Linked DNA regions of Homo sapiens. The protein of the gene in region 2 purifies or fractionates together with the protein of the main gene of each other region. This does not show direct contact. Each region holds a gene or a part of one and is shown on either strand. Other genes may lie near its edges.

What was found.
Region 1: the proteins of SDHA (region 2) and SLC27A2 fractionate together in Homo sapiens (co-fractionation; 2 studies listed by BioGRID). This does not show direct contact.

The regions. Positions count from the first base shown.
Region 1 is NC_000015.10:50,185,184-50,192,209, reverse strand, and holds part of SLC27A2 (long-chain fatty acid transport protein 2), read right to left. Parts: intron 1-7,026. UniProt on the Homo sapiens protein: Mediates the import of long-chain fatty acids (LCFA) into the cell by facilitating their transport across cell membranes, playing an important role in hepatic fatty acid uptake.
Region 2 is NC_000005.10:221,294-228,319, forward strand, and holds part of SDHA (succinate dehydrogenase [ubiquinone] flavoprotein subunit, mitochondrial), read left to right. Parts: intron 1-2,188; coding exon 2,189-2,275; intron 2,276-3,066; coding exon 3,067-3,228; intron 3,229-4,125; coding exon 4,126-4,269; intron 4,270-4,589; coding exon 4,590-4,754; intron 4,755-6,891; coding exon 6,892-7,026. UniProt on the Homo sapiens protein: Flavoprotein (FP) subunit of succinate dehydrogenase (SDH) that is involved in complex II of the mitochondrial electron transport chain and is responsible for transferring electrons from succinate to ubiquinone (coenzyme Q).

The DNA.
Region 1 (7,026 bases), on a different chromosome or scaffold from region 2:
ATGTAGAAAGAAAAAAGAAATTTGAAAGGAAATTCTGGATGTGAATCTACCTGTCAACTATCTAGTTGATATTTAATGTCTTTTATTTTCTTGAGTCTTTTGTAGATATGTTTGGGCCTACATATTTTCTTTTTTCTTTTTTTTTTTTTTGAGATGGAGTCTCACTCTGTCATCCAGGCTGGAGTGCAATGGCGTGATCTCAACTCACTGCAATCTCTGCCTCCTGGGTTCAAGCGGCTCTCCTGCCTCAGCCTCCCGAGTAGCTGGGATTACAGGCGGCTGTCACCATGCCCGGCTAATGTTTGTATTTTTAGTAGAGATGGGGTTTCACCAATTTGGCCAGGCTGGTCTTGAACTCCCAACCTCAAGTGATCCGCCCACCTTGGCCTCCCAAAGTGTTGGGATTACAGGCATGAGCCACTGCCTGGTTGGCCTACATATTTTCTAATGCAAGCATAAAATATCTATCTACCTTTTATAATTTTTATTGTAAAGTCTGCTCATCTATCAATCAGAACATGTAAGCTCCTATAATTCTATTTGTCAAGGTTGGGTTCTCTGAGACTCCGAGATGTGCATGCAGGAGTGCTCTTGGGAATGGGACCTGTGAGGCTGCAAGGGAAGCAGACTGGATAGAGGGAGACATTGAACTGTAATGCAGTCACAACAGAAGTCTCCCTCAGCAGATCCTCTAATCCTAAGGGGACTCTGGACCTGGGATGCCCTTCAGAGTTACCTCCTAAATTAAGGGAGGTAGGCTGTGCCTTCACACCTGCCCATTGACCAGTCCAATGGACTCAGGCTGGGGTGGTGGTGCTTAACCTTGGGCAAAGTGTCTCTCTTCAACCAAGGAGAAGTCCTGGGAGAGGTCTCAGCTGAGAGCTCCCAGCAGCTGAAGAGTGAGTCCGTCAGTCCTAAAGCAGGGATCTGGGTGGCACATCAGAGCATGCACCCACCTCTCTCTTTACTAATAACAAACATTTAAAATTTTCATTTGCATAGAACTGTTGGTATAGTTTTACATACATCACTTCACATAATTTTCATAACAACTCTGTGATATAGATACCAGTAATCTTATTTCTACAAATGAGAAGAGGCTCACCAAGTCAGTGTATGGAGGGTCACATGCAAAATGAAAAGAATCATTCTGGGCTTCTGAGGTTCCCACCTCCTTGTATGAGCCATTCAGATTAAGTTCTAGCAAAGTGCCTTATTTCTTGGAAGAGGCTGGCTGCTTGGCCTTCTGCTCAGTGCTTGTTCAATCATGTGGATCTGCATTTAATGAGTAACATGGATGATCTTTTCTTGAAGAGCAAAACCTCAAGCTTTATTAAAAGTTTGAGTATGAGAAACAGTGGTCACAGAAAGTTGCCTGAAGGGTGTAGAGCAGCTCCATCAGTCGGTTCTTCATCAGTCTAGTTTTAAGTTGTAGACTGAAATAAACCCACAGAGAAAGAGCACACACTTGGGTGTTGAAAAATCAAGTGATTACAACACTACTCCCCCATCCCCTTTAAAGTCTGTTCAAAGAAAATTTTAAAAAATTAAGGTAGCATATTAAGTCTGCCCCTGCCTTTTTTTTTTTTTTTAAGGAAAAAGGAAGAATTTTCTGAATAAACAAGTCCATTGCTAGAAGGCAGAGAGATTGGGTAGGTGGTGAGCTGAATCAATCTTCATTACTAAGGTGTCAGGTGCTCAGGCTAAACCTGCAGCTTTCCAATAGGAAAACATTCAGTCTAGTAGCTTGTTCTGCTACTAGACTGCCTCAGTGAATGAGTAACTGACTGGATTAAACAAAACACCCCAGAAATATTTACCAAGAAGGTAAGGTCCAAAAGGAAGGTAGTGAAAGGAAATGTACTCTGATCATGAAATGGTTGGTTGATGAGCAAGTCAAGCTTGAAGATTTATCTCTTTTCTTCATTCAGAAAAGCAACTGAAATGCAAACTGGTGCTATTAATAACATAGTCCTTGAAGACAACCTAAAAATAGTTCCTAAAATGCCATTTGTAACTGTAATTTTGCATCTCAATCATTGGCAGTTTGGAATGACAGTATTTTGTACAGCAAGATGATGCACATTATAATACTATATATAGAGAGAGAGACATGCATGTGCTCCTCCTTCTTCCCCACACAAATCACCCGGAGGTCATAAAAATGTTTAAGTTCCACCAGGAGTAAGCAAAAATTTAACAAGGAAATACATACTCATTTTACATTTAGGTAATTAAGTAGTAATCTCCTTGATGTTAATTTTTATTTCTCCAAGTTAAAGTTCTTGCTTATATGAACTCTTGCTTTCTAAATAGCCCTGGAATCAAAGGTAATTCCTTATCATGAGTTACCAGGTCACATAAGGCCTTACATAATTGTTAGCATTTGATATCTGTAAGCAACCATGTCATCTTTCTACCAATGATCTACTTCCCTTTTCTCAGAGGCTGTGGGAAGGTCCTTTTCAAATACTAGCACCTATTATATAGAATAATCTGAACTCTATCCTTCTCTTTCAGATTCAATAACAACACCTGATTCAGAGTTTGTTTTTACCTCTTCAGTCCCTGTTTCTGAAGAAAATAAAGTGCATTCCCATATATGCCAGCAAAGTGCTAGTTTTGTTCTTGGATGGAGATGTACAATCACCTCCTTTGCAAGCTTTAGTTAAGAGCAGGGAGAGAAGAAAAATCTTAGAGAATATCTTTAAGCTATCTTTCCTTGGGCTACTAGGCTGGGAATCCCAGCCCTTGGATATATTAATCATTTGGTGTCTGGGTTTCTGTCCTTGTACAGGGTCCTCCACCACCCTACTCACAGGTCCTTTCCAGCCCATCCTGTGCTCACCACCTGCTTACTTGCTGCACTGAGACCCAAGGAGAGCACCGCTGTCCTACCATGTACTGCCAGAGAGCTGGACAGAGTCATTGATTAGGAGGACCTTTGAGAGGTAAGTAAGCCTGTGGTAGGGTAAGGCTGGGCCTGGGGTAGATTGAGTTTAAATGGATTTTTTCACATCTGATTTTGTTACATCATTTTTCAGGCCCTCATGCCCAACCCAGTGGTCCTTAAGCTTCAGGAGAGAAAGCCTGTCACAATCAACCAGAATAATGGAACCCATTAATTCAACAGACATTATCTATCCATTATGTATGTATGTATGTATGTATGTTTGTATGCATCTATCTATCTATCTATCTATCTATCTATCTATCTATCTATCTATTTATCTATCTATCTATCTACCTATCTAGACAGTCTCACTCTGTCATCCCGGCTGGAATGCAGTAGTGTGATCTTGGCTCACTGCAACCTCCACCTCCCAGGTTCAAGTGATTCTTGTGCCTCAGCCTCCGGAGTAGCTGGGATTACGGATGCCCGCCACCATGCCCGACTAATTTTTGTATTTTTAATAGAGACAGGGTTTCGCCATGTTGGCCAGGCTGGTCTCCAACTCCTGAACTCAGGTGATCTGCCCATCTTGGCCTCCCAAAGTGTTGGGATTACAGGCATGAGCCACCGTGCCCTGCCCAACAGACACTTATTGACTGCCTGCCTACTATGTGCTAGACATTACTAGGGAATTATTCAAAGATATATGAGAGAATTCTAAGCCTTTGAGACAAAGTGCATTGAAACAACTCATTTAAGTTACTCCTTGGGCAGTCCAAAGAGTTGGGAAGAGTGTAGATTAGATTATTTCTGTGCCTTGATTCTGGACTAAAGTTGGCATTAGAAAATTAAATATTTCCTTCTGTGGAAGTGAGGCCACTGCTGTTGGCCATTCTTTGGACTCTCTGAGTCCCTATTTTTTCCATTTCCTGTCCCTTCAGGAAACAGCTTAAAAAAATGACTATTATTAGGTCCAGACTGCCATTGTTCTTACATCGCAATATCCTTTAATGAAGCATCTCACTGTTTTAAGCACCTGATCAGAACTGCCTCTGGTGCTCCTTTTGCCTGGAATGCCCCCTCCCCCACTGCATTTGTTCAGCTCAATAGTCAGTGCCCCAAAAAGCCTTCTCTTGACCTCTGCTTGTTTTCCTGCAGCACTTGTAGCCCTCCCAGCACACTGAGCACATTCTACTGGGTGTCACAATCATTTGTGCATGCGGTTTAGTTCTTTTACTGGACTGTAAGATCCTTGAACTAATTCATCTTATTTCTCCATCCCATCATGGCACAGAGAAAACTAGCTTGTACCTTGTTGGGACTCTCTCTCCTTTTTTTTTTTTTTTTGGTGGCCTCTCCTCCCTCTAAATGTTTCTTGCTTTGAAAATCAAATTGTTGTACCATCAGTTTTTCTCAATCTAATCTCAAAAGTTTGGATGACAAGGGTTATCCTTGGTCCCAACACTTGTTTTGTAATGAAGTTCTTCAGTCTTATAGCTTTTAATGATGCAATATTTTTGAAAGCTATTGTAAGCATTTTTCCTTTATCACATTGTTTAAAGGAGGTCAAATTTTGTTTTCTGCAACCTTGCAAAACCAGGTCAAAGGTAATCTGGAACGTTTTATAACTTACCTGGGACTCAGTTTTGCAACAGAGAGTATCTTTAACTGTTACTAAAGCCTTGCATAAGAGTAGTGCCTACACTGTGGGAGCCTCGCATGGCTGTGTTGAGTTAGGCAGTGTATACCCTGCCAGTGAGCTGATGAAGGGACCCTCAGGAGACCTGGGTTATCTACCCAGTGGAAGAGCTAGTTTATTGATGGTCTTGATGCTAGGATAAATGGAAATGGAACAAATGTACAATTTCAGGCCTCTTTTGTAGGTTTTTATAAAATATCCCATATTGTGTGAAATAAAATATGTTTTACTGTTTTACCCATATTCTGTATTTGGAAAGTTGGGTGAAAAACTACTGGCCCAGCCATGTGGCTTTTATTAGTTACAACATTGATACAGGTTCTTATCCTTGGAGACAATTTTCCCATGTGATTACCTAGATCATACCCTGCCCTGGAGAACGATCCTGAAATGTACAACAGAGAGAAAGTCATATTCTCTGGGAAACAGTGCTGCTGCTTGATTCAGGGAAGTGTTTATGAGTCTTGACTTTCTGTAACTATAGTAAAATTGAAAAGAGTAATTGAGTACTGAAATTCCTGATAGGGTTGAGTCCTGTTAAGTGTTATAAAGAAACCCCCAAATTCATAACAACTGGATCAATCCTCATGATAAATGCCTCTGTGCTGGTCCTTTACATATACTGCAGAATTTGACTGACAGATGGAGCTCAAGAGCTCTTACTAGTCCACAAGCCCTGGGCTGAAACTCAAAATATGGAATCAAACTGACATTTATGTATCATGTTCAAGATGGTGTGATAGAATAAACAGTGCCTCGTAAGTGAGAAAAAAATATTTGGGTTCTATCTCTACCTTTCTGTTCCTAACTATCCACTTGATCATGGGCAATTCATATCATCCCTCTAGGCCTTTGTTTATACAGCTATAAGACAATGAGAAGGCCAGTAGCAGTGGCTCACGCCTCTAATCCCAGCACTTTGGGAGGACGAGGCAGGTGGATCACGAGGTCAAGAGATGGAGATCATCCTGGCCAACATGGTGAAACCCCATCTCTACTGATAATAACAAAAATTAGCTGGGCATGGTGGTGGGCATCTGTAGTCCCAGCTACTTGAGGGGCTGAGGTAGGAGAATGGCTTGAACCTGGGAGGCGGAGGTTGCCGTGAGTCGAGATCGCGCCACGGCACCTCCAGCCTGGGCAACAGAGCGAGACTGTCTCAAAAACAAACAAACAAACAAACAAACAAACAACAATGAAAAACAATGGGAAACTAGACTGTTTCTCAAAGCCTAGTCCTCAGACCATTTGTTTCAAAATCACCTAGGGTTGGCGGTGGGGTTTCTTATAAAAATACACATTCCTGGGCCCCAACATAGTCTTACTGAATCAGCATTTTTGGGGATGATCTCAGAAATTTTATTTTTTTGTTTTGAGACAGGGTCTCACTCTATCACCCAGGCCGGAGTGTAGTGGCACAGTCAGAGCTCAGTGCAGCCTCAACCTCCCGGGCTCAAGCAATCCTTTCACCTCAGCCTCCCCAGTAACTGGGACCACAGGTGCTCACCATCATGCCCAGTTAATTTTTGTATTTTTTTTTTTTGTAGAGATGGGGTTTCATCATGTTGCCCAGGCTAGTCTCGAACTTCTGGGCTCAAGTGATCCTCCCTCCTCCACTTCCCAAAGTGCTAGGATTACAGGAGTGAGCCATAGTGTCCAGCCTCAGAATGTTTTTAAAAGTAAGCTTCCGGCCAGGCGTGGTGGCTCACGCCTGTAATCCCAGCACTTTGGGAGGCCAAGGCCGGCAGATCACGAGGTCAGGAGATCAAGACCATCCTGGCTAACACGGTGAAACCCTGCCCCTACTAAAAATACAAAAAATTATCCGGGCGTGGTGGCGGGTGCCTGTAGTCCCAGCTATTCAGGAAGCTGAGGCAGGAGAATGGCGTGAACCAGGGAGGTGGAGCTTGCAGTGAGCCGAGATCACGCCACAGCAGCCTGGCCTGGGCGAAAGAGCGAGATTCCGTCTCAAAAAAAAAAAAAAAAAAAAAAAAAAGTAAGCTTCCTAGGTGATTCTTGGGCTTATTAAAGTTTCTTCTGTAAACTTTTTTTTTTAAAGTATAACACATTCATTAAACTTACAGGATTATAGGGTTAGAATATCTCTAAGGTCCCTTCCAACACCAAAGAATTCTAAGAATCAGTCCATTCAACATATTTTCCCATGGGCATGTTTAGTAAACATGCAACTCTGTGACAGACTGTAATTTTGCTTCATGTGCAAAGGTATCTCAGTGATTTGGAAAAACTGATTTTTTTTCAAATATGTGGCCTCCCTCAGAGGTCAGTTGACGGTCCAGAGAGTGCCTTAGGTCCACTGTAAAGTCTGGTTCACGTTTGAGTTTAATATAGAAATTCCCATATATTCTCTATGTAAACACATAGCTCTATGGCAGACAACTGTTAGCTGGGTGGGAAGAGGGTATCTGGTTGT
Region 2 (7,026 bases):
GCGGATATGCAGGTGCATTTTTATCAGTTTTAGACTTCTTGCCTAGAGAGGGGATTTAGTTCACTTAAACTACCCTGCTTCCGCTTCTTCCTGATACAGTCGTGCGTTTTTAGGTTCTTCGTTGGCTGCTTTTGTGATTGTGTAGGTTGTACATGCAGATTAGTTTCTTGCTCGTGATTTATAGGTGCGTTGTATTAGATGAGGACCCCTTACTTTGCTAGATTTCGGATATGAATGTCTCTGCACTTCTTACTTTTCCCCTCCACCTCCTAATTCAGTCATCTGAAATTCTGTATTGTTAAGCAAGGTCTAAGTATTCCTTTTAGTTATATGTTCCCCATTTTTTTTCTTGAGGAAATGTTTGATAGTTTCTCCTAAAAAAATTAACAATTGGCACAAAAGACTAGTTTTGTGTCAAAACTAGTTTTGAGTTTTATCTAAAGACTGAAATTGGCTTAAAGTTGGGCTTTCCAAATTCAAAAATCTGCCCCAGATTAGATTTAGATTGAGAGGGTTAGTGTCCTTTTCGCCAGGGGGATGGCGTGATAATTTGTTCAAGATTGTGTTATAGTAGCTGCCCCTTTTAAGCCAGCTCTGTGTGTGTGTGGTGGGGGGTGGGCAGTGGGTCTTCCACATCAACATCCTAGAAAGAACGAATAAACATTGAGTGATCTCACTGTTTCTACTTACATTTGGTATAATATACTGTTCTTACTGGTGCTATTACTATGTTAATAGGGCACTTTACAACATTTTCAAGAACATTTGTATTAAAATTATTTCAAAGACTTCTTTCTTAAAATATGATTTTACCATGCAAAAATTTTACTAAGGTAGAAGAATATTTGTTCTTTCTCATTCATTTTCTGAAAAAAGAAAAAAGCTGAATTAGCTTATACCAATAAAAACAGAGACTAGAAATTGGAGAAATGAAGAATAATTTTTTATCCCACATAATAAGTAATTTCTGAATTGCAAGTATTTCTAAATACTTGAAGACATTCCTCACATCCCCTCTTCTGATTGCATTTATTTCCTAAAGCTTTTTTTTCTTTTCTTTTTTTTTTTTTTGGAGACGTTGTCTCTCTCTGTTGCCGAGGCCGGAGTGCAGTGGCACAGTCTAGGCTCACTGCAGCCTCTGCCTTCTGGGTTCAAGCGATTCTCCTGCCTCAGCCTCCCAAGTAGCTGGGATTACAGGTGCCCGCCACGACGCCCAGCTAATTGTTAGTAGAGATGGGGTTTTGCCATGTTGGCCAGACTGGTCTTGAACTCCTGACTTCAGGTGATCCACCCACCTTGGCCTCCCCAAATGCTGGGATTACAGGCATGAGCCACCGTGCCCAGCCCCTAAAACTATTCTTGATGATATTTCTGAGACTATTCAGTGGTCTTCTCAAATGTAGCCAGCAGAATGGAAAACGTATCCCCTAAATGGCTGGCCAACCTTAGCATATGGACAGTGTCACCTCTCTCACACAGAGCCACTAAAAACTAAACACCAAAACCAGTTTTCTTGGGTAAAGTTTTCTAAGATGGAAAATTTAAGCAGCAAGATGTGTCAAGTTGTAGATGTTGGCCAGGAAAAAGCCAGCAGCAGCCAGGCAGGGGAGAGTGTGCATCCGACATCCTCCTGTGTGATGAAGGGATGACACCTCGTCCCTCTAGGCTGTCAGCTTTTACTGTTCCAGGATACAGATCTCCTGATTCAATGTTGAGTGCCTTTTGAACTGACCACAAGCCCTCCTGGACGATTGGAACTGTAATGTGGAAAGGGCTATGATGGAGCCAGTTAAAATGCTTCATTACTTGCAAAATACCACATACAGTAATACAATATACACGTCTTTCCCCTTCTCCACTAAGTAGCATACATTAAGACTTCACAGAGGAAGTGTGCCTTTTTCATTTCGTATCTGAGTCAGTGAGTATCCTGTTTGGAAACAAGCTTCATCCTGGTTTTCTAGAGTGCCAAGTCAGGGTGGAAACGAGGACCTGGGGGCTCAGTCCTTCCTTGCCCCTTGGGCTGCCTTCAGGGTTAAGTAGAGGGTCCCAGCTGAGCTCTCTGGATGCACAGGAGCACCTGGGTACATAAGAAGGTGAACAGTTTGCAAGGGGAAATTACTATCCCCCACAGCATTTGTTCCTTCAGGACACTAACCCTCTGGATCTGTGTCTTCTGTGTCTCCAGTGGCCAACAGTGTTGCAAACAGGAACCCGAGGTTTTCACTTCACTGTTGATGGGAACAAGAGGGCATCTGCTAAAGTTTCAGATTCCGTAAGTTCATGCTTTTTGTTCCATTATAAATGATTTTTTTGGCTTAGGGGGTAAGGATCTATACCAGTTTGTTTTCATATGAGTCATAGACATAAGGGAAAAATTTCTCATAGGTATCCAATGCATGCTGAAATTATTTTCAGTGTAATAATACTTAATTGCAAGTACAAATATAAACATAGATGTTTACATTTTTACTTGTATCTGTTATGTATCTATAAACTAGATTTAAATTTAGATCAAGTAAAGCAATAAATTAAAATAAAATGAACAGTGTCTGCTGTGATAGATGATAAAATTCCTACTGAAAATAGGACGGTGGGGCCAGTGAACAGTATCTGCTGTGATAGATGATAAAATCCTACTGAAAATAGGATGGTGGGGCCCCTCGGGTGTGGGTTGCTTTGTATTTAGTGAGCCTATCTCTGTTGAAAAACTGAAACTTGCTGAGAAGTTGTTTTCTTATAAGCCCACAATAGCGACTGAATACTCCTTGGCACCTTCTCAGGCATAAGCATAGGCACGGCCCTGAAGTAGAGTTGTGGTCCTCAGTCTGACCCCATGGGATAGACCCTCTACCATTCGTAGAATCTGATTGTCAGTCCCTTCTCCAGGTGCGAATGTGCCCACCTCTCCCCGAACTGTTCAGGGCTCAGCCCCAGGACAGGATGGAGGCCCTGTGTGCCCAGCAGTTGCTCCTTTTATCTTTGTCAAGCTCTTTCACTGTCACAAGATTCTTCATGTTTGGCATAGTGGAACATGTGATTGACAGGTGAATTTTTCTTTTCCAGATTTCTGCTCAGTATCCAGTAGTGGATCATGAATTTGATGCAGTGGTGGTAGGCGCTGGAGGGGCAGGCTTGCGAGCTGCATTTGGCCTTTCTGAGGCAGGGTTTAATACAGCATGTGTTACCAAGCTGTTTCCTACCAGGTCACACACTGTTGCAGCACAGGTAAGAGAAAGGTGCCCCACTGTGCTCCCACTCCGTGCAGGTCCCGCGCAGCCTCGCACTTTCTACCTGGGCAGCCCCCTGCCTCCTCCCCCTGCTCCAGCCACATGGCCTCTTGCTGTGCCTTACTCAGCTCACCCTCTCAGGGGTCTCTCCCTGGAGCCTCTTCCCTGGGGACTTTGAAGGGCGGGAGACTTGTTGTCACTCCTAATTCAGACTCCAGTCACACTTGGGTTTTCTCTGACCATCTTGCCTACTACCTTCCCCACCTACCCCCGCCACCCCAACACCTTAAGAAAAGGAGATCACCTAAAGAGGAGGAATCAGAATTTAGGTTGGGGAAGAAAAGGGCAAGGGTTTCATTTGTCCCTGTGCTTCTGTCTTCTGGGACTCTCTGAGGGGTAAGACAGTGGTGGGCACACACAGCCAAAGGAAGCTGGGGTACAGGGGAGTGCGACTCTGAGTGTGGAGTTTATTACTTGGCAGGAAGCACTTCTAGTCTTTAACACATGCCCGTAAATGCCATTGGGAAGATTTGTTAATAAAATTATCTGGAAAGATTTGTTGAGTACCTTTTCTGTGCCAGATAGGTTAGGTTATAAGCATATTACAGGTAGCCTTTCACTCACTGCTCCAGTCAGCCCTTCCTGGAGTTCCCTGTGTCTCCACCACGCAGATGAGGAGACTGAGGCTAAGGATGGAATCACTGGGCGAGTCGGGGAGGGGTTGTGATCTGGAATCTGTCGGGTCTCGCTGCTCCTCTGCTGAGGTCAGCCCTCACTGGGAGTCACTGTGTGAGTAGTTGGCTTTCTCTGAATCCCCCCAGCGGGTGGATTTGGGCCTGGAAGACAAAGTTGGCGCTCCTGTTTGTGGCTTGTAAGGAGTGGTTGGTGTTTCCAGGGAGGAATCAATGCTGCTCTGGGGAACATGGAGGAGGACAACTGGAGGTGGCATTTCTACGACACCGTGAAGGGCTCCGACTGGCTGGGGGACCAGGATGCCATCCACTACATGACGGAGCAGGCCCCCGCCGCCGTGGTCGAGGTGATGGGCGGGAGGCTCTGGGTGTTCTCGTGGTCTGTTTCTAGTACAAAAGAATCCTGGAAAAAAATGTAAGCAATTGAGGCGGATGTGGCAGCCAAAAGAATGGTGATGAGCAAAGTTCACAAGAAGAGTCTTTTTCCGTTATGAACTATGCATTATATGTAACAAGAAAACTTCTCTTTGATGAAGTGTTGACATTTTCATAAAATAGGTTACTTTGGGTTTGCAGATTTGTGTTAAACTTGTTTAGTGTAGATTAGCTGCGAATATCTTGACTCCTTTAAGGTGTTAAGGTTTTTGTTTGTTTTTATCTTTCACAGCTAGAAAATTATGGCATGCCGTTTAGCAGAACTGAAGATGGGAAGATTTATCAGCGTGCATTTGGTGGACAGAGCCTCAAGTTTGGAAAGGGCGGGCAGGCCCATCGGTGCTGCTGTGTGGCTGATCGGACTGGCCACTCGCTATTGCACACCTTATATGGAAGGGTAAGGCCGCCCCCGTCCACCTGAGACAGGACACGTAGTGCTGGGGCTTATGGTGACAGTGGGGAATGGGTTAGCGTGCCCAGTGAGTCAGCCAGAGATTACGTAAAAAGCAACAGAGAACAGCAGCGTGGGGCGCATGCAGCGACTGTGGATGTGACAGGACCAGACGTGTGCCTTGAGGAGCTGTCCCTAAGGCAGTGTGTGACTTCTTGCATCTATGTCAGAAAGTTGAATCGATAATCTTACATACCAGGTTTTAACTTGGGATATGTGACACTCAACATACAAGAGCAGAGCAAGCAGGCCAGGCACAGTGGCTCAGGTCTGTAATCCCAGCACTTTAGGAGGCCAAGGCAGGAGGATCACTTGAGACCAGAAGTTTGAGACCAGCCTGGACAACATAGCAAGACCCTGTCTCTACAAAAAGTTTAAAAATTAGCTGGGCATGGTGGTACATGCTTGTAATCCCAGTTACTCAGGAGGCTGAGGCTCCTGGATCACTTGAGACCAGGAGGTTGAGGCTACAGTGAGCCATGTTCGTACCACTGCACTCCAGCCTGGGCAACAGGAGACCCTGTCTCAAAAAAAGAGAAAGAACAGGCTGGGTGCGGTGGCTCACGCCTGTAATCCCAGCACTTTGTGAGGCCTAGGCGGGCAGATCACAAGGTCAGGAGTTTGAGGCCATCTTGCCTAACACTGTGAAACCCCGTCTCTACTAAAAATACAAAAAAATTAGCCAGGCATGGTGGCAGGCACCTGTAGTCCCAGCTGCTTGGGAGGCTGAGGCAGGAGAATGGCGTGAACCCAGGAGGCGGAACTTGCAGTGAGCCGAGATCGCACCCCTGCACTCCAGCCTGGGCAACAGAATGAGACTCCATCTCAAAAAAAAAAAAAAAAAAAGAACAAGTATTTTAAGTCTCTTTTACCACCTCTGAGTTCCTGAATGGATTGGTTTTGTTTGTTTTGTTTTGTTTTGTTTTTGAGACGGAGTCTCACTCTGTCACCCAGGCTGGAGTGCAGTAGCACAATCTCAGCTCACTGCTACTTCCACCTCCTGGATTCAAGTGATTCTCCTGCCTCAGCCTCCCGAGTAGCTGGGACTACAGGCGCACGCCACCATGCCTGGCTAATTTTTTGTATTTTAGTAGAGACAGGGTTTCCCATGTTGCCCAGGCTGGTCCCGAACTCCTGAGCTCAGGCAGTCCACCTGCCTTGGCCTCCGAAAGTGCTGGGATTGCAGGCGTGAGCCACCGCACCCGGCCATGGATTGTTTTAATATTAACTGTTAACACTGAAGAAAGACTTGAGGTGACAATAGTTACTGGGTAATCAGAGTCAACTTTGGCATGGCCAAATAATATTCTGAACGGTATTGATTCAGAGTAATCAATATTCTGAACTTTGTTGTTTTCTGATGCATGGGGACGGATCGTTAATTTGCAGGTTGTTAGAACACCAGTGACTTCTCTGTGGCTGAGTGCATCGACAAGTGTGTGGTGGGAGGAGACCGCGGCTCCATCTGGAGCAGGAGCTGTCATGTGGGGAGCTGGCCCAGGCTTACAAGAGCGACTTGTGCTGGCTGAGGGAACGGCAGGTCCAGGCGGGCAGCGCTGTCCGGCGCCTACCTTTCTGCGGTGCCGGAATCTGCTCGTCTGCAACCGTCCGCTTTGGTAGCTGCCAGCCACATGGGGCTGTTGCTAATGTGGCAGGTGTAGCTGAAGAGCTGAATGTTTTGACTTATTTTAATTAATTAAGTGGTTATGTGTTGCCAGTAGCTCCCATCTGGGCTGTGACTGCATGGTCTGCGGACCTCACTCTGGCACCAGACTCCGAGTGGAGCTGCATGCGGCCACCGGACAGTGTGGAGTGCCTCTTCGGGTTGTGTAGAAGTAGGAAATGTGTCACCAAAATAGGAGCTGTTGCTGCTGCGTTCTCTAGCACACCTGCCTTGTCTGTACTGCTCGGCGTGGAATGCCTCTCGGGCTCTGACAGTGTCACTGACACTGTTGCTGATCTCCTTGGATTTACCTGGTCCATTTGGATCAAGTTCTTTCACCTATTCACATGAGCAGATACCACCTTAAAACCTTAAAGTTTGGCTTAACACTTCTTGCCCTTTTTTTTTCCTTTCTTTTAGTCTCTGCGATATGATACCAGCTATTTTGTGGAGTATTTTGCCTTGGATCTCCTGATGGAGAATGGGGAGTGCCGTGGTGTCATCGCACTGTGCATAGAGGACGGGTCCATCCATCGCATAAGAGCAAAGAACACT